Regions from separate parts of the Homo sapiens genome. Here region 1 is linked to region 2. Evidence: fine-mapped expression QTL. A gene starts in region 2. The other region holds a variant in brackets. All regions are shown on one strand. Distances are between the middles of the regions.

The links. PIP is the estimated chance that this variant, and not a neighbour inherited with it, causes the effect.
Region 1: its variant is fine-mapped to the expression of TMEM86B in whole blood (TOPMed, PIP 0.91).

Annotation. Positions count from the first base shown.
Region 1 is chr19:55,256,236-55,266,672 of GRCh38, reverse strand. It overlaps PPP6R1 (protein phosphatase 6 regulatory subunit 1), which reads left to right and starts at 7,656. Exons shown (of 24, transcript NM_014931.4): 1 at 7,656-8,238. It overlaps HSPBP1 (HSPA (Hsp70) binding protein 1), which reads left to right. Exons shown (of 8, transcript NM_012267.5): 5 at 387-542; 6 at 691-787; 7 at 1,284-1,395; 8 at 3,991-4,450. The coding sequence ends at 4,065. RefSeq lists enhancers at 7,019-7,068, 7,149-7,198, 7,229-7,428, 7,434-8,408 and silencers at 7,258-7,552, 7,459-7,738, 7,869-7,968, 8,139-8,198, 9,383-9,576. The variant G/C (reference allele first, on the strand shown) is at 5,588.
Region 2 is chr19:55,223,343-55,233,779 of GRCh38, reverse strand. TMEM86B (transmembrane protein 86B) reads left to right here and starts at 5,017. Exons shown (of 3, transcript NM_173804.5): 1 at 5,017-5,089; 2 at 5,343-5,589; 3 at 6,217-7,142. The coding sequence starts at 5,039. The coding sequence ends at 6,599. PPP6R1 (protein phosphatase 6 regulatory subunit 1) reads left to right here. Exons shown (of 24, transcript NM_014931.4): 18 at 1,569-1,705; 19 at 1,798-1,978; 20 at 2,112-2,182; 21 at 2,289-2,370; 22 at 2,896-3,006; 23 at 3,096-3,167; 24 at 3,249-4,001. The coding sequence ends at 3,252. It overlaps MIR6804 (microRNA 6804), which reads left to right and starts at 2,828; the gene lies at 2,828-2,895.

The DNA of each region.
Region 1 (10,437 bases), 33 kb before region 2:
TTGGTGGTGATGATGGTGACGATGATTGACGATAATTATATTGTTAATGGTAGTGATGATGATGGCGGTGATGGTGATGTGGTGGTGATGGTGATAGTGATGGTGATAGTGATGGTGATGTTGGTGATGTCATGGTGATGATGGTGGTGGTGATGGTGGTGGTGGTGATGGTGATAGTGATGGTGGTGGTGGTGAGGATGGTGGTGATGGTGATGGTGGTGAGGATGAGAATGGTGATGATGATGATTGTGATGGTGGTGAAGATAGTGGTGATGGTGGTGATGATGATGTTGGTGATGGTGGTTGTGATGATGTTGGTGATGGTGCTTGTGATGACAGTGGTGGTGGTGGTGACTGCAAGCTCAGGACCTTTCCCCCTCTCCCAGGTCTGGTCCGAGAGCAGGAGGCTGGGCTGCTGCAGTTCCTCCGCCTGGACGGCTTCTCTGTGTTGATGAGGGCCATGCAGCAGCAGGTGCAGAAGCTCAAGGTCAAATCAGCATTCCTGCTGCAGAACCTGCTGGTGGGCCACCCTGAACACAAAGGTGTGGCAGCCCTTGAGTGAGGGCAGGAGTGGGGAGCAGACGCCCTGGGGTGGGTGCAGGTGTGGGAGAAGGGGAGGAACAGGCATCCCGGGGAGGGCATAGGAGATGGGTGGGGCTGCCCCTCTGACCCCTGCAGCCCTCCCCCCAGGGACCCTGTGCTCCATGGGGATGGTCCAGCAGCTGGTGGCCCTGGTGCGGACAGAGCACAGCCCCTTCCACGAGCACGTGCTTGGAGCCCTGTGCAGGTACTTTGGCTCCTTGAGAGGACGGGGCCTGGGGTGGGGGCCCCGTCCTCTCAAGGTGGGGGTGGCTCAGGAATCAGCCCGTAGGGACTCAGGAGTTGGGACCTTCCCGTAGAGAGGAAGGGTGTGGGGCCAGAAAGGAGCAGGAGTCAGGGAGCCTCAGTTTCCTCACCAGTAGGGCTGGCACAGAGGCCTTGCAGGAGGGAGAGAGGCTTCTGTACACGCCCCCACCAGTGGATTAGTGTCTAATCAGATGATGCTGGAGCTCTCAACAGCACACCAGAGTTGACACGCACCAGGCCCTGTGCTGAGCCCCTCAGCACCCACCCTGGGCCAGGGGCAGCGTGAGGTCCATTCCGCAGATGGGGAAATGGAGGCCCATTGTGGGGCAGCGACTTGCCAGGCTCCTGAGTGAGCCAGGGGACGGGGCGGGCGATAGGGTTGGGTCAGTGAGGCCTCTAGAGGGAGGTCCTAAGGGCCGCTGTCATGTCCCTCACAGCCTGGTGACAGACTTTCCGCAGGGTGTGCGCGAGTGTCGGGAGCCGGAACTGGGCCTGGAGGAGCTCCTCCGCCACCGCTGTCAGCTGCTGCAGCAGCATGAGGAGTACCAGGTACATGGGGAGGGGACGGGGTGCAAGGAGGACCAGGTGCAAGGGGGAGGGGACAAGGGCTCCAGGAGGACTAGGTGTGTGGGGAGGGGATGGGGTTCGAGGAGGATCAGGTGCCAGGGGGAGGGGACAGGGGCTCCAGGAGGACCAGGTACACGGGGAGGTGACGGGGTGCAAGGAGGACTAGGTGTGAGGGGCAGGGGATGGGGTTCGAGGAGGATCGTGTGCCGGGGGAGGGGACAGCGGCTCCAGAAGGACCAGGTGAGTTGGGGAAGGGACAGGGTGTGAGGAGGACCAGGTGTGAGGGGGAGGGGCCTGGGGGGTGAGGAATTCCCCAGGTTAGACCAAGTGTGGTAGTGGGGACCCTAGTAGGGGCAGAGCCAGCCAGTCCTTGCCCTTGGGGGCTCCTGGGTCCGCTGGTTCAGGCTTTCATTCGTGTTCTCGTGCATTTCACTTATCTTCCATTCAGCAGATGTTTATTTCATGCCTAGCATTCGTCCCGTGCTGTGTCAGAGTAGGAGAGACAGCAAGGAGACAGGAGCTTGGAGATTCTTAAAGTGTTGCCCAATCATTGAATTATTATCTAAATTACCCAATACAGTTGTTTTACATTAAGTAAATGTAAATTGAATATAATATCACTCAAATGTCTTAATGATTTAACTATTTCATTAAATTGACAAGAAATAACAAATGGCAAAAAATAACCAATTATTTTGGGTAAATAACAAGTGATAAATAACAAGTCATCAGATATTTAATTAGATAAGGGGCAAATAAATAACTCATTAGATAACTAGATAAGTAACAAATGCTAAATCACAACTAATTAAAATTCAAATAGTTAACTGATTAAGTAATGCATTAATTTGTTGAAGTGAATGAATCAATGCTGGTGCTTCAGCAAAGCCGAGCTTAGCAAACGCACCCACCTCCTTGGGACGTTATATTCTATTAGATTCATTCCTGTGTAGACACTGTCAAGTGTCTGTATGTATTGAAAGTGTACTACATGGCCAGGCATGGTGGCTCACGCCTGTAATCCCAGCACTTTGGGAGGCCGAGGCAGGCAAATCATGAGGTCAGGAGTTCGAGACCAGCCTGGCCAACATGGTAAAACCCCATCTCTACTAAAAATACAAAAAATTAGCTGGGCATAGTGGCAGGTGCTTGTAATCCCAGCTACCCAGGAGGCTGAGGCAGGAGAATCGCTTGAACCGGGGAGGCGGAGGTTGCAGTGAGCCAAGATGCGCCACTGCACTCCAGCCTGGGCGACAGAGTGAGACTCCATCTCAAAAAAAAAAAAAAAAAAAGTGTACTACATGAGAAGTTTTGACTTATGTATACACCCGTGGAAACATTCAAATTAGATTTGTAACAGATTTTACTAATGCTTTGTGAATAGGTTCCGTAGTCACATGGTTGAAAATACAAGACCCGCAGGAGGGTAAACAGTGAAAAGTCTCTCTCCTGCCCCTCCTTCTGGCTACCCAGTTGCTCAGGTGTCCTTCTTAAAATATTAGGTACACACGAGCAAAGGTGCATGTGAATTCTCCTTTTTCTCTATGTTATGCAAAATAAGCCTGCCGTGCTGTGATGGCTGTTCTGCCCCTTGCTTTGTGGGCATTGCATGTCTCGCCTGTGGCTCTTTCATTTTGCAGCTGTACAGTGCGGATGGGCTCTTTTTTGTAGCATGGATATGCAGGTTGTTTCTACACTCTCGCTATGACAAACACTGCTGAAAGAATAACCTTTTGTATATGTTATTACATATGTCTGTAGAACAATTTCTAGAAGGGAAATGGCTGGGGTCAGGTATGTTAAAGGTGAAGGTTAAAGGGTTAAGGGCCGTTTCATTAGCTATCACCAAGCTGCTCTCCATAGAAGTTCAACCATTGACACTCCAGTCATGAGGGTGCCCAACTCCCCAAATCTTGGTCAGGACAAAGTGGCCTCGATGAACCATTTGACCTTTTTTCAAACTGATTGTTGAAAAGTAGTACTCCAGTCCAGTTTACATTTCTCCCATGAGTGAAATTTGGCATCTTTTCTCTTTCTTGTGAACTGTTCGTTCTCATCCTTTGCCCACTTATCTATTTATTGGGTGATGGTTTTTGCGAATGACTTTTTTAAGCTCTTTAAGAGTTAAGTATATTAGCCATTTGTGCTATGAATCACAAATATTTTTCTCCAACCTCGTTTTCTTTTTCTTTTTTTGCCATGGGAGTATTTTTTATATTACGTAGTTTAACCTCTCAGTGCTTTCTTTCATGGTTTCTGGGGTTTGTATCCGCAGAAAGTTTTGAGCAGTGGTCCATATCTGGGAGTTAGAAAGAGCCCAAGAGTGCTGATATGAGGCAGACCAATGGAGTGAGACGAGTCTGGGGGACCCCGGGTTCTAGTTCAAGTAGTTCAGACACCAGTGTGAAGACAGTGAATCATGGATCTGAGCAGTGATTAAAAAAGCCTAACCTCTGGTGGGGGGGAGTGGGTGGTGGCCAGGAGAGAAGAGGAGTCACCTCTGGGTGCCAAGAATGCTGGAGGCAGGGTCCGGCCTCTGCACTCAGGCCCCTTGCTCCCTGCCCCTGCCCAATCCAGGAGGAGCTGGAGTTCTGTGAAAAGCTGCTACAGACCTGTTTCTCCAGCCCAGCGGACGACAGCATGGATCGGTGAAACCAGGTGGCTTCTTGCCCCCTTCTCCGTGGGAACCCCAGGCCTCTTGCCTCCCTCCCCACCTACAAGGCCCTCTCCCAAGGGATCGCAGGGCCTAGGTGCCTGGACCCAGGGTGTGCCAGCCCGTCTCTGTGCAGTCCCTGGAAGGGGCGCTGAGAAAGGCACCAGCTCCTTGGACCCCACCTCCCATGCTCTCACTCTCATCCCCGTTCTCTTGTCCACACAGCTCTTCCAATAAAGGTGTTTCTCTTCCTCCTTCTCCTCCTTCACTGCCGCCTTTGTCATCTCCTTTGGAGGGTGCATGGGGGACGGGAGGAGGGGCACGGGTTTAAGGGACTTGGGGAGCCACTGGAAGAATAATAAAAGTGTTGCTCTTTATCATCTATAGAGCCATTGTGTCATTTACTCTTCCCTGTCTTTCCTGAGCAACAGTGTGTGGGACATCTGTCCTTTTTTCGGCCACCTGGCAAACCTGAATTCTAGGTTTGAGGAATTTCCCAGGTTAGACATCTAAATTTTCCCTAGGGTAGCCGCCATTTCCCTTCCCAGCATCCTTTGCTGTAGGGTAATCATGTGACATTAGCTCCACAAATCAGAACTCTCTCTGGGAATCTGTTTTGTACACCAATCAGAACCCGCTGGTGGTCTAGCTCCTCTACCAATCAGAGCCCGCCGGTCGTCGGGCCAAGAGTTGGCGGTGGAGGGGCCCCTGCCCAGGTTCCCTTCTGGCTAGTGCAGGAGCAGCCACACCTGGCTTCTGGACAGGGCTGGCAGAGATTCTGGCGGGAGTGTCTGAGCCAGGTGCCGTTGATGGAGGCTGCACTGTGTCTCAGGAGCAGGCCTGTGGCTGGGTGTGGGCTTCATTCCTGACTGCAAAGCGCCAAGCGGATTCTGTAGCTTTCTCAGAGACGTGGGATTGGGGCGGGAGGTGGGGGTGTCGGAGGCTGCCTCAATTCCTTTAATAAATTCCTTTTCTGTTTAGCTACAAGAAATTTTGTCATTTGTAGACAAGAGCTTTGAAAGCTGTTGTTTTTCCAGAGAGGAGGCTGAGCTCAGAGGAGGCTGACCCCTGACCAAGTTCACAGCCAGGATTCACAGCTGGACTAATTCCAGAGCGATCCTCCTCTTTCTTTTTCTTTTTCTTTCTTTTTTTTTTCTTTTGAGACGGGAGTCTCACTCTGTTGCCCAGGCTGGAGTGCAGTGGCCCGATCTTGGCTCACTGCAGCCTCCACCCTCCGAGTTCAAGAGATTCTCCTGCCTCAGCCTCCCAAGTAGCTGGGATTACAGGCGCCTGCCACCGCGCCCGGCTAATTTTTGTATTTGTAGTAGAGACCAGGTTTCACCATCTTGGCCAGGCTGGTCTTGAACTCTTGACAGGGTGATCCACCCTCCTCGGCCTCCCAAAGTGCTGGGATTACAGGTGTGAGCCACTATGCCCGGCCAATCCTCCTCTTTCTTGTATCCTGGTTTCCTAGGACAATTTGATGTCAGACTCATTCCTTTTGTGTGGATTGTTCTGGTG[G/C]ATCTGGGATTTTTGAGTCTATTTGGATTGGTTTTTATCACTCCTCTTCCTAAATCCAGGATAAATTGAGAGGTAGCTGCAGGATCTGAGATCCTGTCTCAAGAAAAAAGTTCCAGTTGTAGTCCCAGCTACTCGGGAGGCTGAGGCGAGAGGATTGCTTGAGCCCAGGAGTTCGAGGCTGCAGTGATCTGTGATCGTGCCATGCACTCCAGCCTGGTCGACAGAGCCAGACCCTGTCTCTTAAAAAAAAGTTTCAATTCTAATGCAAACACAATGTATATCTGTGAGTTCTGCTGGGTGGAAATCCAGACTTCAGTCATTAAAGCCCCCACAGCTTCCCAGCTTCCATTTGAAGGGTAGGGACTATAGCCACATCCTTATCCCTCAGTTCCTGACCTCTGTGTTAAAACAGTGTGGCAATGATGCCATCATATTGTGGAGAAAACAAGGAAGCCAAATGCTGGGTAAAAGACAAAACATCTCTATAGAAAAAAGAGAAAAGGAAATGCCTCTCTGTGATGGTTCATTTCAGGTGTTGACTGGGCTAAGGGATGTCCAGATAGCTGGTAAAACATTATGGGTGTGTCTATGAGGGTATTTCTGGAAGAGACTAGCATTTGAATCGGTAGACTGAATAAAGATCTTCCCTCCCCAGTGTGAGCTGGCATTATCCAATCCATTGAGGGTCTCAATAGAACAAAGAGGGCAAAGGAGGGGTGAATTTGCTCTTTTTTTTTTTTTTTTTTTTTCTCGAGACGGAGTCTCGCTCTGTCACCCAGGCTGGAGTGCAGTGGCCTGATCTGGGCTCACTGCAACATCCACCTCCCGGGTTCAAGTAATTCTCCTGCCTCAGCCTCCTGAGTAGCTGGGATTACAGGCGCACACCGCCACGTCCGGCTATTTTTTGTATTTTAGTAGACACGTGGTTTCACTGTGTTGCCCAGGCTGGTCTCAAACTCCTGAGCTCAGGCAATCCGCCCACCTCGGCCTCCCAAAGTGCTGGGATTATAGGCGTGGGGTCTTGAACTCCTGAGCTCAAGTACAGGCAGGCGTGAGCCACCACGCTGGGCCCTTTGTTTTTGAGACAGGTTCTCGCTCTGTCTCCTAGGATGGAGTGCAGTGGTGCAATCCGGCTCACTGCAGCCTCGGCTCAAGCGATTCTCCTGCCTTAGCCTCCCGAATAGCTGAGACCACAGGCGCGGGCCACCAGGCCCAACTAATTTTTTAAATTTTCTTTTGTAGAGACGGGGGTCTCCCTAGGTTGCCCAGGCTGGTCTCCAACTCCTGGTCTCATGCCATCCTCCGGCCTCGGGCCTCCTAAAGTGTTGTGATTACAAGCGTAAGCCACCGCGCCCGGCCAATTCGGAGTCTTAAAACAAAAACAAAAACAAAAAAGTTCCTCGCGCCCACACGATTTTTACAGTAGGCCTCTAACATGGGTAGAGAGGGGAGCTATTAAAGTTGGGGAAACCGAGGCTCAAAGCCAGAGGGACCTTCATCAATCTAGACACAAGGTCTAGGAGGTCTCTTTCAGTTGATGCTATTAGAAGCTGCTTTGGGCGGAACTGGCAACACCAGCGACCCGGCCGGGACTATCGCCAGCAGACGGAAACGACTGAGGGCCTCTGAGGCTCGGAGGCGGCTAAGCGCGAGAGCCGGACGGAACGAAGGCGCCTGGCTTTGGCTGGAGCGAAAACCAGGTCTGGATTTCGCAAGAGCCCGACCCTGGAGCCAAAGCTCCACTATGATTAGAGGAGACAGAACAGCGAACGGATTTCCAAACGGAGCGAGTGGGAAGGGAAATCCTGGAGCGGAATATTCACGGGGCCTTGGAACGGAGCCGGTGCGCAGCTGCGGCTCACTGAGCTGTCTGGGTTTATTCCGGGGCAGACCGTTGGCACCAACGGGCGCAAGCGCGTCTGCGGCGGCGGGGTTCAAGAGTGGGCGGTGTCGGGAGCGCCCGGGCGCACGCGCACTGCACCGCCCAGGCGTGCACCCCGCCCCCCGCACCTGCGCACCAACACAGCCGCGGGAGGGCGGGGCCTCCTGCGTCGTCCTGCGCTAGGGGGATTGTGGGATAGTGGCGGAGGGAGCCGGGCGTCGGAGGCCCTGAGGCCGGCCGCAGAGCCCGGAGATTGAGCGGCTTTGGGGAAGGGGTGGTTAAGGAAGTAGGCCTCGGCTTCCGTCGGTCGCTGCTCGGCTCTGCGGCCCGTTTGGACCGCGGAGGAGGTCGCCTTCCCCTCCCGTGGGGCGCTCGGTTGGACTGTGGAAACCGGGGCAACTTCCCCCGTCTTCCCGGCTGAGGCGCCTGCGTGGGCCTCGCGACCCGGCTCGCCAACCCGCCTCGGCCCGCACGCCCACCTCGCCTGCGGACCCCGGAGGTGCCTACGCGGACTAGTGACGCCCCCCGCCCGTCGGCAACTCCACCCGGCGCTGACCCCCTCAACTCTGCAGGACCCGGCGCGCGAGGACCCCACGACCCGCGGGCGCCTGCGCGGACCCCGCGAGCCCCGGCGCCTGCGCGAGTCCCCGACGCCGCCCCCGCCCCCACTCACCGGGCCCCGCAGCAGGGGCCGGAGCCGCCGGCGGCGGGGCGGGGGGGGGCGCCCCGATGAGCCCCGAGTGCGAGGAGCCGCCGCCCCCCCTCGCAGGTGAGCGGCCCGCGTCGCCCGACCCTCTCTCTCCAGGGCCAGGCGCCCACGTCTTCCCCTCTCCGCGTCCCCTCAGGCTTTTCCCTCTCGGGACCCCCGCGGGTCTTTTCTGCTTCGGATCCTTTCCCTCCTTCCTTCGGGTTTCCTCTCCACGGCACCCCGTTTCTTCCCCCTCGACCCTCCCCAGTCTCTTAATCTCTTCACCTCAGCTCCGCCGCCACCCTAGTCTCAGTCTCTTGCTCTCGGCCTTTTCCCACTCGCTCTCTGCAGCTGCGCTCCCCAGTCCCTGAGCCTCAGCTCCGCTCTCTTGCCTCTCTGGCCGGTTCCCCGGCCCCCCAGGAGTCTTTCTCCCTGGTTACCCTGGACTTTGCCTGCTTACACCCTTCCCTCTCGCCCCGATCTCTGCCCCGCCACCTCTTCCGTGGCGCAGCCTCCTTAGATCCCCGGAGCTCAGGACTGGAGGAGCGGGGCTTGTTTTCACCTTGACCGACCCTCTCCCGCCTCCGGCTTCTTGTGCGAGGGACCTGGGAGCGGGGCTTCTCTGGAGCAGCCACCACTCGGGCCTGCTTCAGTGAGATGAAGCCTGCTGAGGGCAGGCAGGGAGCCTGGCGCTGGGCACCGAGGAGGGGGCATCAGCCCTAGGCCCTGCCCTGGAGGTGGGGCCGGTCCCTGGAGGGGGTACAAAGGCAGAGCCGGACAGTCACAATTCCTGCGTGTCGTGATCGAGGTGACTTAGGGAGCTGCAGGGGGCCACAGAGCGGGAGGCACTGGTGAGACTGACTGGACGGACGGCTTTTTCTGTCTAGGAAGGATGAGTAGGAGGTGACAGATGGAGAGTGGGAAGAAGGGCCTTCCGGGGGGGGAAGGAGCAGCACGTGCAGATATGTCAAGGAAGGAAGGTCGGAGTCCTGAGTGCAGATGTATTGGGAGGGTGAGGGGCAGAGTAGTTCCGCCCGGCGTGCTTATCCAGGCCTCGAATGGGACCTCTGGTTGGGGTCTTTCTTGCTCGCTCGTAGTACACACAGACATGACCATAGACACCCGCCTGAAAGGCAAGATGTTTCAGGAAAGGAAGCTGCGTAGACTGTCAGGTGCGGTACTGGGTTCACAGTTGTAGAGAAACTGCAGTGGGATTTCATCCAGCCCAAGGGCGAGGGTCTAACTGTTAGCGTGCGCTGCAAATGCAGCAAGGACTCGAGATTGCCTGGATAACACAGGATGAGGACTTGGTTTACATACATGCACAACACACATGGAGACACGGCGCCCGGCCACGTGTGCTTACTAGTGGTGGGATGGCTGTTGGAGCTGCTTGTGCTGTTGAAAATGTTATGCTTTTTTTTTTTTTTTTTTTTTAACTCTAGTTCTGGGATTGGGATCATGAGAAGGCAGTCCAGCTAATTGTTAGAGGATCTTTTGCCAGACAGACCTAGGCCGAGTCCGGCTTCTGCCAAGCGAGACCTTGGACAAGTTGTTCCTCGTCTGTAAGTGGGGATAGCAGACTGCTCTCCTCAGAGGGTGGATCTAGGGATTAAGTGCAGGGTTTGTAGAAGCCTGTGGCAGAATGCAAGGCACATGACACTCTGCAATCAGTAGCTGTTTTGATGTTGATGATTTTGAGACTGGGTTTTGCTCGTTTGCCCAGCCTTGAACTCCTGGACTCAAGTGATTTTCCCACCTTAGCCTCCTAAGTAGCTAGGACTACAGGCACGTCCTGCAATGCTTGCTCAATTTTTGTGTTTTTGTACCACGCTTGGCTAATGTTTGTATTTTTTGTAAAGACTGGGTCTTGCTCTGGTGCCCTGCTGTGGTGCCCAGGCTGATTTCAAACTCGTGGGTTCAAGCAGTCCTCCTACCTAGCCTCCCAGAGAGCTGGGATTATAGGCATGGACCACCACACCTGGCCGTTCTTTCGATTATTATTTGATTTGGGAATGTCCATTGCAGTGGCTCTCAACTGGGGGCGATTGTGTCCCCTGGGGGACGATTGGCGATATCTGGAGATGTTTTTGGTTGTTACAACTGGGGGGAATGCTGCCAGTATCTGGTGAGTGGAGGTGGAGGCTAGGGATGTTGCTAAGTGTCCTCCAGTGCATGGGCAGCCCCAACACCGAAAAGAACCGTCCAGCCCAAATGTTAGCAGCGCAGAGGAGGAGAACTTTGCTCCACTGCTGGGGTATGGTGTGTCGTTGTGGCTTA
Region 2 (10,437 bases):
TAAAATTTCTTTCAACAATGTTTCGTAGGTTTTAGAGTATGAGGCTTTGTATTTCTTTTAAGTTTATTCCTGTTTTCTTCTTTCTGTTACTATTGTAAATGGAATTTTCTTGAAATTGTTTTCAGATTGTTACAAGTATATGAAAATACAATAGGTTTTTGTATGTTGATCTTTCATCCTGCAACCTTGCTGAACTAATGTATGAGTTCTGATAGTTTTAGTGGACTCCTTAGGATTTTCTATGTACAGAATCATGTCATGTGAATAGAGTTCATTTTCCTTCCTTTCAAATCTGGATGATTTTAATTTCCTTTTCTTGCCTGGTTGCCCTGGCTAGCCTCCGGGACAATGTTGAACAGAAGTGGCAAGAACAGGCATCCTTGTTTTGTTCCTGATCTTAGGGGGAAGCATTCAGCGTTTTGCCATGTAAGCATGCTGTTAGTTGTGGGGTTTTGTAGATGCCTTATGTTAGGTTGAGGGGCTTCCTTTATACTCCTTAGTCGTTGAGTATTTTAGTTTACTTTTAACTATATACAGATATATTACTTTCCAGTTAAAGTAGTCAGTTACTCTGTTAAGACAAAAATATTGGGTCAGCATTTTAGACATAGTATATAGTCCCATACTGCATCTTTGGGTCAGCGATGGACCACATATGACAGTGGTCCCGTGAGATTATAATCCTCTATTTTTGCTGTATTTTTCCTATGTTTAGATACACAAACATTTACCATTGTTAGAATTGCCTGTAGTATTCAGTACTGTAACATGCTGTATAGGTCGGTAGTCTAGGAACAATAGGCTATACCACAGAGCCTAGGTGTACAGGAGGCGCCACCATCCAGGTGTGTGTAAGTGCACTCTAGAATGTTCACACAATAGCAAAATCGCCTAATGATGGCGTTTTTCAGAGTGCACCCTCGTTGTTAAAGCTTAGTTTTAGTGTTACTTTGCTTACCCCTTCCCCGGTTGATCAGCACGTAGGTTGCTTGGATTTTCTTCATGCTCACAGGTGTGTGTTAGTCAACATTCAGCCAGTGTTTTTGGAGCAGCTATGGGTGCCTGGTGGTTTCTCAGGGCTGAGGATACAGCAGTGGCAAAACTCAGCCATCTCTGCCTTCTTGGAGTTTCTAGTTGGAGGGAGAGAGTAGTGTGAAGCCTCTGTCCAGAGGGTGGGCCTGCTGGTGGGAAGGCCTGTCACTGTGGTGACCGTGTGAGGTGACGGCTGGGAGGTGGCTTGAGAGCTGGTGAGTGGGTCTGTCTGCTCTGGTTGCCATGGCTGAGGCTCAGCCCACTTCCCCAGGGCCTGCCCTCCACGGATGACTGGCGACGGACGGTCTCCTTACGGCCGCATTCTGTCCCTGCCCGCCTGTGTTCTTGCCGTTGGCTCAGAACTCCCTCTCCCAGCCTCTCCTGGTGTCGTCACACCCCAGGCTCCCTGGACCCTTCTGTGACCTGCCTGTCATCCCAGCCCGCTCTCCTTGGGCTGACCCTGGGCTGCAGGGAACAGGATGGGTGTCGGCCGGTCTGTCCCACACAGCTAGCTGACGAGGTGGTTTCTGGGGCAGGAGTGGAGGCAGCACAGACAGTGAGGACGAAGAAGAGGAGGACGAGGAGGAGGAGGAAGACGAGGAGGGCATTGGCTGTGCAGCCCGTGGAGGGGCCACCCCTCTGTCCTACCCCAGCCCTGGCCCTCAGCCTCCAGGTGAATGAATGGGCGGTGTGGTCAGGTGTACACAGGGCTGTCTGCCTGCTACTGAGTTCACCCTCCATCCCGCTCCCCCACCTCTATCCCAGGCCCCAGCTGGACAGCCACCTTTGACCCAGTGCCTACAGATGCCCCGACCAGCCCCCGAGTCTCCGGGGAGGAAGAGCTGCACACTGGGCCTCCAGCCCCACAGGGGCCCCTCAGTGTGCCCCAGGGCCTCCCCACTCAGAGCCTGGCCAGCCCTCCTGCCCGTGACGCCCTGCAGCTCAGGTGAGAACCGGATGGAACGGGCTAAATGGTGCTGGTATCCCGAGGCCAGGAGGTGGCCATGGGGTCCCCGTCCTCTCATAGGCTCGAGTGCTAACCCTAGCTGCCCCCTTGGGCTGCCTCTCTCGCCTACCAGGTCTCAGGACCCCACACCCCCCTCAGCACCTCAGGAAGCCACAGAAGGCAGCAAAGTCACGGAGCCCTCAGGTGAGCCCCGCTTTGCCCTGCCCACCCGCGGCCCTGGGCAGAGAGAGCAGCCTGGCCAGCTCCGAGCTTGCTGGGAGCTGCAGCTGAGATCTCTTATCCCCCACAGCCCCTTGCCAGGCCTTGGTTAGCATCGGGGACCTTCAGGCCACCTTCCACGGGATCCGTTCTGCCCCCAGCTCCTCGGACAGGTGAGCAGCGAGGTGGGGCTGCCTAGTATCGGGAGAAGTCTTTTCTCCTCTTCGCTGAGGTGGGCTCTGGGTTCATCTTGTCCCTGAGCTGCTCCAGGCCTCCTTTGCAGGACCCCCAGGCGCAGCCTCATGTTGTGCCCCAGCCCCTTGCACTCTGTAGGCTGGTTCTTCTCTTAGTAGCCTGGGATGCTTGGGGCCCTTGAGCCCCAGGGTTGGGAAGGGCTCGTTGGAGGGTGTGAAGGATTGGGAGGGTGAGAGCATGCAGAAGACCCTTTGGGGCTGTCTCAGCCGGCCTCGAGTACCTCCTCCACAGGGACAGGAGGCGGGAAGAGGGGTGCTTGTCTTCCTGTCCAGGGCTGTGCTGTCCCTCCACGCTGAGCCAGCTGCGTCCTCGGGAGGCCCCTCCCCGTGGGGCAGGTGGCAGACACACACCCAGTGAGCCGACTTCAGTCGGGTGGGATGTGAGGGTGTCAGCAGGTGACGGTGGGGGCCACGCTGACAGCCGCACCTGCCTCTCACCCACAGTGCAACCAGAGACCCCTCTACCTCTGTCCCAGCCTCCGGGGCCCACCAGCCCCCCCAGACCACAGAAGGGGAGAAGAGCCCAGAGCCCTTGGGGCTTCCCCAAAGCCAGAGGTGAGCACCAGGGCAGCAGGGCGGGGGGGTGGGGGTGGGGCTGGTGGGGCAGGAAGTGACCTCTGCACATCCCCTCTCTCCCCTGACAGTGCCCAGGCCCTCACGCCTCCTCCGATACCCAATGGCTCTGCCCCGGAAGGGCCTGCATCCCCAGGCTCCCAGTGAGTGTGGCTGCAGCCTCGGGCTGGGTAGGTGGGGCTGGGCCTGCTAGACCCTCACACGACATCTCCCTCTGTTTCCAGATAGCTGCCTGGTGCGGCAGCGGCGGCCAAATCTTCCGTCCTCCCGTGGATCTCCCGGGGTGGGGGCAGGGCGGGTCCCACGATGGCCCCCATTGCCCTCATCACCCTGACACCCCCACATTCTCTCCTCTGGACCCCCAGGAGGCTGGTGCCAGGGAGACAGGCCCAACCCACCCCCATTTGCACTGAGAAGAGAAGTTTTGGAGCGTTGCCTCCTAGAATAAAGATACAGAGAGTCAAATAGAGAGAATGGAGAGAGAGAAACATATATTATATATTATATAGAGAGAGGGAGGAGAGCGAGAGAGAGTGAGGACACCGAACTGGGCTGGCGGCTCCAAAGCACAGCCTTCCCTGTTCCGTCCCAGCGGGAGCTGGTGTTAGGGGTCCCAAGGTTGCCACCCACGTGCCCAGCTGTCCCACGCTGCAGCGCAGACGGCCACGCCCACACCCGGCCTTTTAGCTCAGGTCCACCATGGGGGACGGCCCAGCGTGGGTGGGGGTGCCAGAGGGTCCCGAGTGGGGGCCGTGCCTTTGCCCAGACCCTGCACTTTCAACCAGGCCAGTCCGGCTCTGGGGAGCAGGGGCCTCCCCGGCAACAGCCCCAGGGGCCTTGAGGGTCTGAGGTCCCAGCCCTGTTGCCAAGTGACCTTGTCCCCAGCTCCCTCCTCCCAGGCTGGTGTGAGTGTGCGTGCGTTTGTGCCGAGCTTCTATTTCATATTGCAAATATAAATAAAGGAAGGCAGTTTACGATTCTGCTGGTCAGACCTTACGTTCTGGGATGCGGGGTGGGGAGCCTGTATTATCCCTGCACCCCAGAGGCTGGGGGTGCTCCTGACCCAGTCTGCCCCCACACTGTCCTGCCAGAGGGAGCCCTGTGGCTGCAGAGGCCCCAGGCTGGGCCAGGCACTGGCTGTGAGGGCTCCTGCCAGGTCTACCCCACCTGTGGGCAGGGCCTTGGGCAGAGGATAGAAGCCACCGACAGGCTCAAATCCCTGCTCCTGCCCCTGCTTACCCCCAGTAACCAAGCCCAGCATTGAGGCTGGGTACTGGCGCCCAGTAGGTCTGAGTCTTTCAGGTAGAAGGTAGAAGTGTAGGCTGCGTGTGCAGCGAGTGGCACCGGTGAGCGGCGCTGGGAAACCGGAGCGTGTGGACCGGGCCATGAGGACAGCGTCCTCACTGGGGTGGCAGTTGGCTTGGAGGTCACCTGGGGGCTCGCTCAGCTAACAGGAGAGGGTGCTTGTTCCCCGCATTCGTGGTGGTCCCTCCTGGTCACCCATTGAAGCAGTGTTTGTGGTGGAGCCCCTGAGGGCTTGGTGGGGTTGAGCAGAATGAGGAAAGGTTTCATGGAGCAGGGAGGGAGACGGCTAGGGCAGCAAGTGAAGGACAGACTCGCCTTCCCATCCCTCCAGGGGCACTCCTGCCAGCCAGCCCCTCTCCCGCTTCCCATGATGGGGTGGCTGTTGGAATTCTGCACCCCATCTCTTCTGATTGTTGGGGCCCAGGACAAGGGGACAGGCATTTGTGGGCCTAACCTCCCCAGGCAGATAGGAGGAGGAAGCCATGTCCCAGCAGGCTAGGGCAGAGGGACCCCCAGTGCCAACAGTGCTTTATCAGCGGGCGCCAGGCAGGGCCATCCCCAGGGTGAGGACAACATCTCCCTGGGCCCTGTTATCAGTCACAGAGTCCACAGGACGCTCCTTGGGTTAACGTGTAACCATGAGCCCTCCCCTCCACCCCCTGAAGCCACTCGCTCCCAGATTAGGTCGCTCTGGGGCTATCAGGCCAGCATGGACGCTGGCAAAGCGGGGCAGACCCTGAAGACTCACTGCTCAGCCCAGGTGAGAGCCTTCTGAGCTGTGCCTGGGGCTGGGGGGACAGGGCCCTGGAACCCCAGCAGCCGGCGGGTCTGGGAGCTGCTGTCCTTGAGTTGGTTGGGCCCTGGGAAGCTGGGTTCTGGCAGCCTGGTCCCTGAATGGGTCCAGCCTGTACAGCTGGGGTCCCAGGTGGGGGTGGGACAGGAGCCATGAGATCTGAGTCCCAAGAATGGGGGCTGGGCTGGGTTTCGGCTCAGTAGCTCCCCACTCCCCAAAGCGCCCAGATGTCTGCAGGTGGCTGAGCCCCTTCATCCTCTCCTGCTGCGTGTACTTCTGCCTCTGGATTCCCGAGGACCAGCTGTCCTGGTTCGCTGCCCTGGTCAAGTGCCTGCCCGTCCTCTGCCTGGCTGGGTTCCTGTGGGTCATGTCCCCAAGCGGGGGCTACACCCAGCTCCTCCAGGGAGCCCTTGTGTGCTCGGCTGTGGGGGACGCTTGCCTCATCTGGCCGGCAGCCTTCGTCCCTGGTGAGTGGAAGGTGCTGTGACGCTTTCCAGATGCCCGTGTGAGAGAGGCCCCAGCACTTGGATGGGAGCCTGGGTGCAGAGGGCTCCTGTGAGAGCTCCAGTGGTCAAAGGCACAGTGGGGGGCGCAGCCGTGACCGAGGCAGCTCACGCTCCAGCGAGGGGTGGGGGCAGGCGGTGTTAGGGCAGTAGCTGAGGTGGCGCAGAGGGCAGTGAGGACCTGCTGGAGGTACTGCAGTTTGAAGCAGGGTTGCTGAGGAAGGCCTCACTGAGGAAGTCACATTTGGGCAGAGCTGAAGGGCTGTATGCCTGTGTGGAGGAAGGGCGAGTGTAAAGGCTCCGGGGCAGGGACGTGTCAGGTGCTTGTAGCCCAGCAGGCCAGGGTGGCTGGCGCAGAGTGGCTGGAGAGCTGGAGGCCATGGGGCTTTGGAGGCCAAGGGAAGGTGGGGCCTCCTGGCAGTTCTGAGCAGAGCAAGGATGGACACTGCATGTGGGGAGACCTGCAAGGAGGCTCGGCCAGGGTGGGGCCTGGTGCTCTGGGATGGTCCTTCTCTTAGGCCCTGAGGGGTGACCTCGGGGCCATTCCCAGGATGGGCCTTCCTCACTGGTACCCCACCCCTCTCCCGCCAGGCATGGCCGCCTTTGCCACCGCCCACCTCCTCTACGTCTGGGCCTTCGGCTTCTCTCCCCTGCAGCCCGGCCTGCTGCTGCTCATCATCCTGGCCCCTGGCCCCTACCTCAGCCTTGTGCTCCAGCACCTCGAGCCGGATATGGTCCTGCCGGTGGCAGCCTATGGGCTGATCCTGATGGCCATGCTGTGGCGCGGCCTGGCCCAGGGCGGGAGTGCCGGCTGGGGCGCGCTGCTCTTCACGCTCTCTGATGGCGTGCTGGCCTGGGACACCTTCGCCCAGCCCCTGCCCCATGCCCACCTGGTGATCATGACCACCTACTATGCTGCCCAGCTCCTCATCACACTGTCAGCCCTCAGGAGCCCGGTGCCCAAGACTGACTGACTAGGGAGCTTGAAGGGCCGGTGTTCAGGCCCTCTCCTCCTGCAAGGACCTGGGCCTCCCAGCCCAGCCCAGCCTGAGAAATACCCTCAGCAGCGAAGCTTCCTGACGCCTGTCTGCAGGCGCCGCTGCCGCCGTCGCTTCTGGCTGAAGACGTTTGAGGACGATTTGCGGAATTCCAAGTCCACTACTGGGTTCCAGCTGCCTTCCCCCGGTTCTGACTCCAGATCCCTGGCTCCTCAGCCAGGCCCACATGGAGCCCTCCCAGCCACCAGCCTGCCTCCATGTTCACTGTCGGCCCCACAGCCTGCCCGCCCCCTGCTGCTGCTCTGAATCCGTTTTCCCTGTGGGTGTGGAACCGTAGATGTTGCTGTTACCGTAGGAGAGGCCTCGGGGAGGGTCATGATTGTGATAAACCATCGCGGTTAATGACAGCAGAAGGTTCTTTGTCGCTCCCCATGGACCAGGCCTGGTGCCCAGTGGGACCCTCCATGGCCCTCTGGTGGGGGGATTCGGGGGGATAAAGTGAGGATTGTGCAGAACTGAGCCAAGAGGACTGTTTGGTCTTTGTGTTAGTTTCCTGAGGCTGCTGTCACAAATTACCCCAAGCCAGATGCTTTGAAACAAGATGAATGGACTCTCCTGCAGTTCTGGAGACCCAAAGTCCAAAATCCGGGTGTTTTCCGGCCCATGGTCCCTCTTGAGGCTCCAGGGAAGAATCCGTCCTTGCCCTCTCGGCTTCTGGAGGCTCCCGGGAATCCCTGGCTTCCATCGGCCTGTGGCTGTGTCTCTCCGTCTTCATGTGACTGTCTTCAACTGGCAGCCTCCCTCTGTGTCCGCATCCTTCTAGGGACACAGGTCATTGGATTTAGGGCCCACCCTAAACCCAGGGTGATTCTATCTCAAGATCCTTAAGTATGTCTGCAAAGCCCCTATTTCCAAGTAGTGTCACCTGCAGAGGTATCTGGGGTTAGGACTTGGACATATCTTTCTAGGGGATACAACCCGCTGCAGTCACATGCAGTATCGGGAGAAGGGTGGGAGGCTTGAGGATGAGGGGTCTTGGAGGAGGGAGGGCGGCAAGGGGGTAGGAATCAAATGGGAAGGAGGAACCCAGCTGTGCTCCTTGTCAAGGCTGTGTGACCTCGGCAAGCTGCTATCCCTCAGGTCCTCAGATTCTGCATCTGAAGACTTGACAGGGTCCAAGCTGCTCTCCAAGACCCTATTTGACTTCTGCATCCATGATGTGCTTTCAGTGACTCATAGCAGAGGGGCGACTTCTCCATCCATGGTTAGCATTTAGAGACTCTTACAGCAGAGAGGCGACCTCTCTATCCATGACCTGCATTTAGGGACTCTTAGAGCAGAGGTGACTTCTCCATCCATGACCTGCATTTAGGGACTCTTACGACAGAGAGGGGACTTCTCCATCCATGGCCAGCATTTAGGGACTCTTACAGCAGAGAGGTGACTTCTCCATCCATGACCTGCATTTAGGGACTCAGATGTGAGAGTACAGAGGTGGGAAGGGAAGGTGGGGAGCCTGGAGGACGGGGACCAGGAAGGAAAGTGAGGACAGGAATCCACAGTTGGAGTGAGGAGAAGTGGAAGCTGAGGGATTTCCTTGAGGAAGGGTCAGGCATGAGGAGGATCTGAAGGATTGGACTCAGGTTCGAAACCTCCACTTCCTCCTCATCTCCTACCCTCTCCACTCAGACCTGGCGAAAGGTGGGGAAAGAGGAAATTGCGCAGTGAAGTGTAGCAGGAGGGACGGGGGTCTGGGTGTGCAGATTCCAGGGGCACGTGGGGCCTGCAGACATGAGGGGTTCCTGGAGGTGAGGGAGGAGGGGCTGGAACCTGGACTCCTGGGTCTGAGGGAGGAGGGGCTGGGGCCCTGGACTTCTGAGTCTGAGGGAGGAGGGACTGGGGCCTGGACCCCTGAGTCTGAGGGAGGAGCTGGGGGCCTGGACTCCTGAGTCTGAGGGAGGAGGGGCTGGGCCTGGACTCCTGAGTCTGAGGGAGGAGGGGCTGGGCCTGGACTCCTGAGTCTGAGGGAGGAGGGGCTGGGGGTCTGGACTCCTGGGTCTGAGGGAGGAGGGGCTGGGGGTCTGGACTCCTGAGTCTGAGGGAGGAGGGGCTGGGGACCTGGACTTCTGGGTCTGGGGGAGGAGGGGCTGGGGGCCTGGGTCTGAGGGAGGAGGGGCTGGGGGCCTGGACTCCTGCGTCTGAGGGAGGAGGGGCTGGGGTCTGGACTCCTGAGTCTGAGGGAGGAGGGCCTGGGGGCCCGAACTCCTGGGTCTGGGAGAGGAGGGGCTGGACTCCTGAGTCTGTGGGAGGAGGGGCTGGGGGCCTGGACTCTTGAGTCTGAGGGAGGAGGGGCTGGGCCCATAATCCCTGGTGTTTGGGGAACATTCTGGCTTTTGGTCCCTGGGCTCTGTGGGGTCGGCAGTCCAGAGCGACGGGACGCTGCTCTCCTGTCGGCATCCAGCAGCCCCAGCGTCGTGTCCCTCCTCCCTGATTCTGGTCCCCCGACGACCTTTCATCTGACTTCTCAGAGGTCTGCTTTCTCATGATCTGATTCGTGTTTCTCTAAAGCGGGACTCTCGGAGGTGCTGCGCACATCCCTCTCAGGCTCCTTCCAGCCCTGCCGGGACCCAGACCTGGGGCAAGGGGCAAAACGCCGGCTCCATCTTCCCTCCCAAGCCGGGGTGGCTGGTGGGGATGAGGCGGGGTGGGACTCAGCAGCCTTCATCCCGATCCTGCAGGTCAGACCACCGTGGGTCTGATTCCCCATCTGGGCCCTCCCCAGGCCCTCGGGACCACGACAGAGGCCACAGCAGCAGGTTAGTGACCCCATCAGCCTCCATCCTGCACGTCTAGGAAGGGCCGTGGGATTCCGTCTTCTGTTTGCCGCAGAGGCTTCTACCCATGTCAGCCGCCAAAGCAGACAGAATCGTGAGTGTGGAGGCTCGGACCTCCAGCTCCATCACCCTGAGCTGGGCAGCCCCAAGGGCCCAGACCGGCAGACTTCCATCTACTGGGTCCAGGGGCATGGCCAGCGGGAACACAAGCACGTCACACTGCTGGCTCGTGGTGGAGGGCTTCAGCCTGGGACCCTCTACACCACCTCTGTGTGGGCCAAGAAGAAAGGAGTAGGTGGCCCCAGGGACGTCCTGAGCATGTCTACAGGTAAGAGGGGCCACCTTTCCACTGCCCAGCAACATGTGCGTGTGTGTGCACGTGCACTTGTGTGTGCATGTGTGTTTGCGTGTGTGTGCGCGTGCGTGCGTGTGCACATTTGTAAAAAGTGCCAGGCTGTGCACTTTATTCTCATTAGAGCCACAAACAAACTTTATCAAATGACTCTCTCCTTTCCACATTCCCAAACTAGTCCCTGGCCTGGTCACACCGGCTCAGACCACCAGCTCCCTCACCCTGAGGGCCCCGCAGGCCCAGACTCCAAGACCTGCCCCTACTGGCTCTGCTGGGCCAGTGACTCCTCAGACATCAGGGTGCCTGTGGAGGGCCTGGCTGCAGGGACGCAGTACCCCAGCATGTGGGCCCAGAAGCATGAGGTCAACAGCCCCAGCCAGACGCTCACAGAGGCCACGGGCGAGGGGTGAGAGCACTCTGGGCTTGGGGAGTAGGAGGCCTCAGGAGGCCTCTGGCATCGGCCCCACTGATAGGGTGCATCCTTCCAGAGCAAGCAGGGCTGTGGGAAGGAGGGGATGCTTCCCTTTGCTCTGGAGGCCCAGGGACTATGGGGTGTGGTCTGTGAAGCAGGTTCACTGTGCACTGGTTACCAACTTGCCAGAGTGATGAGACAGAACGCCACACGCAA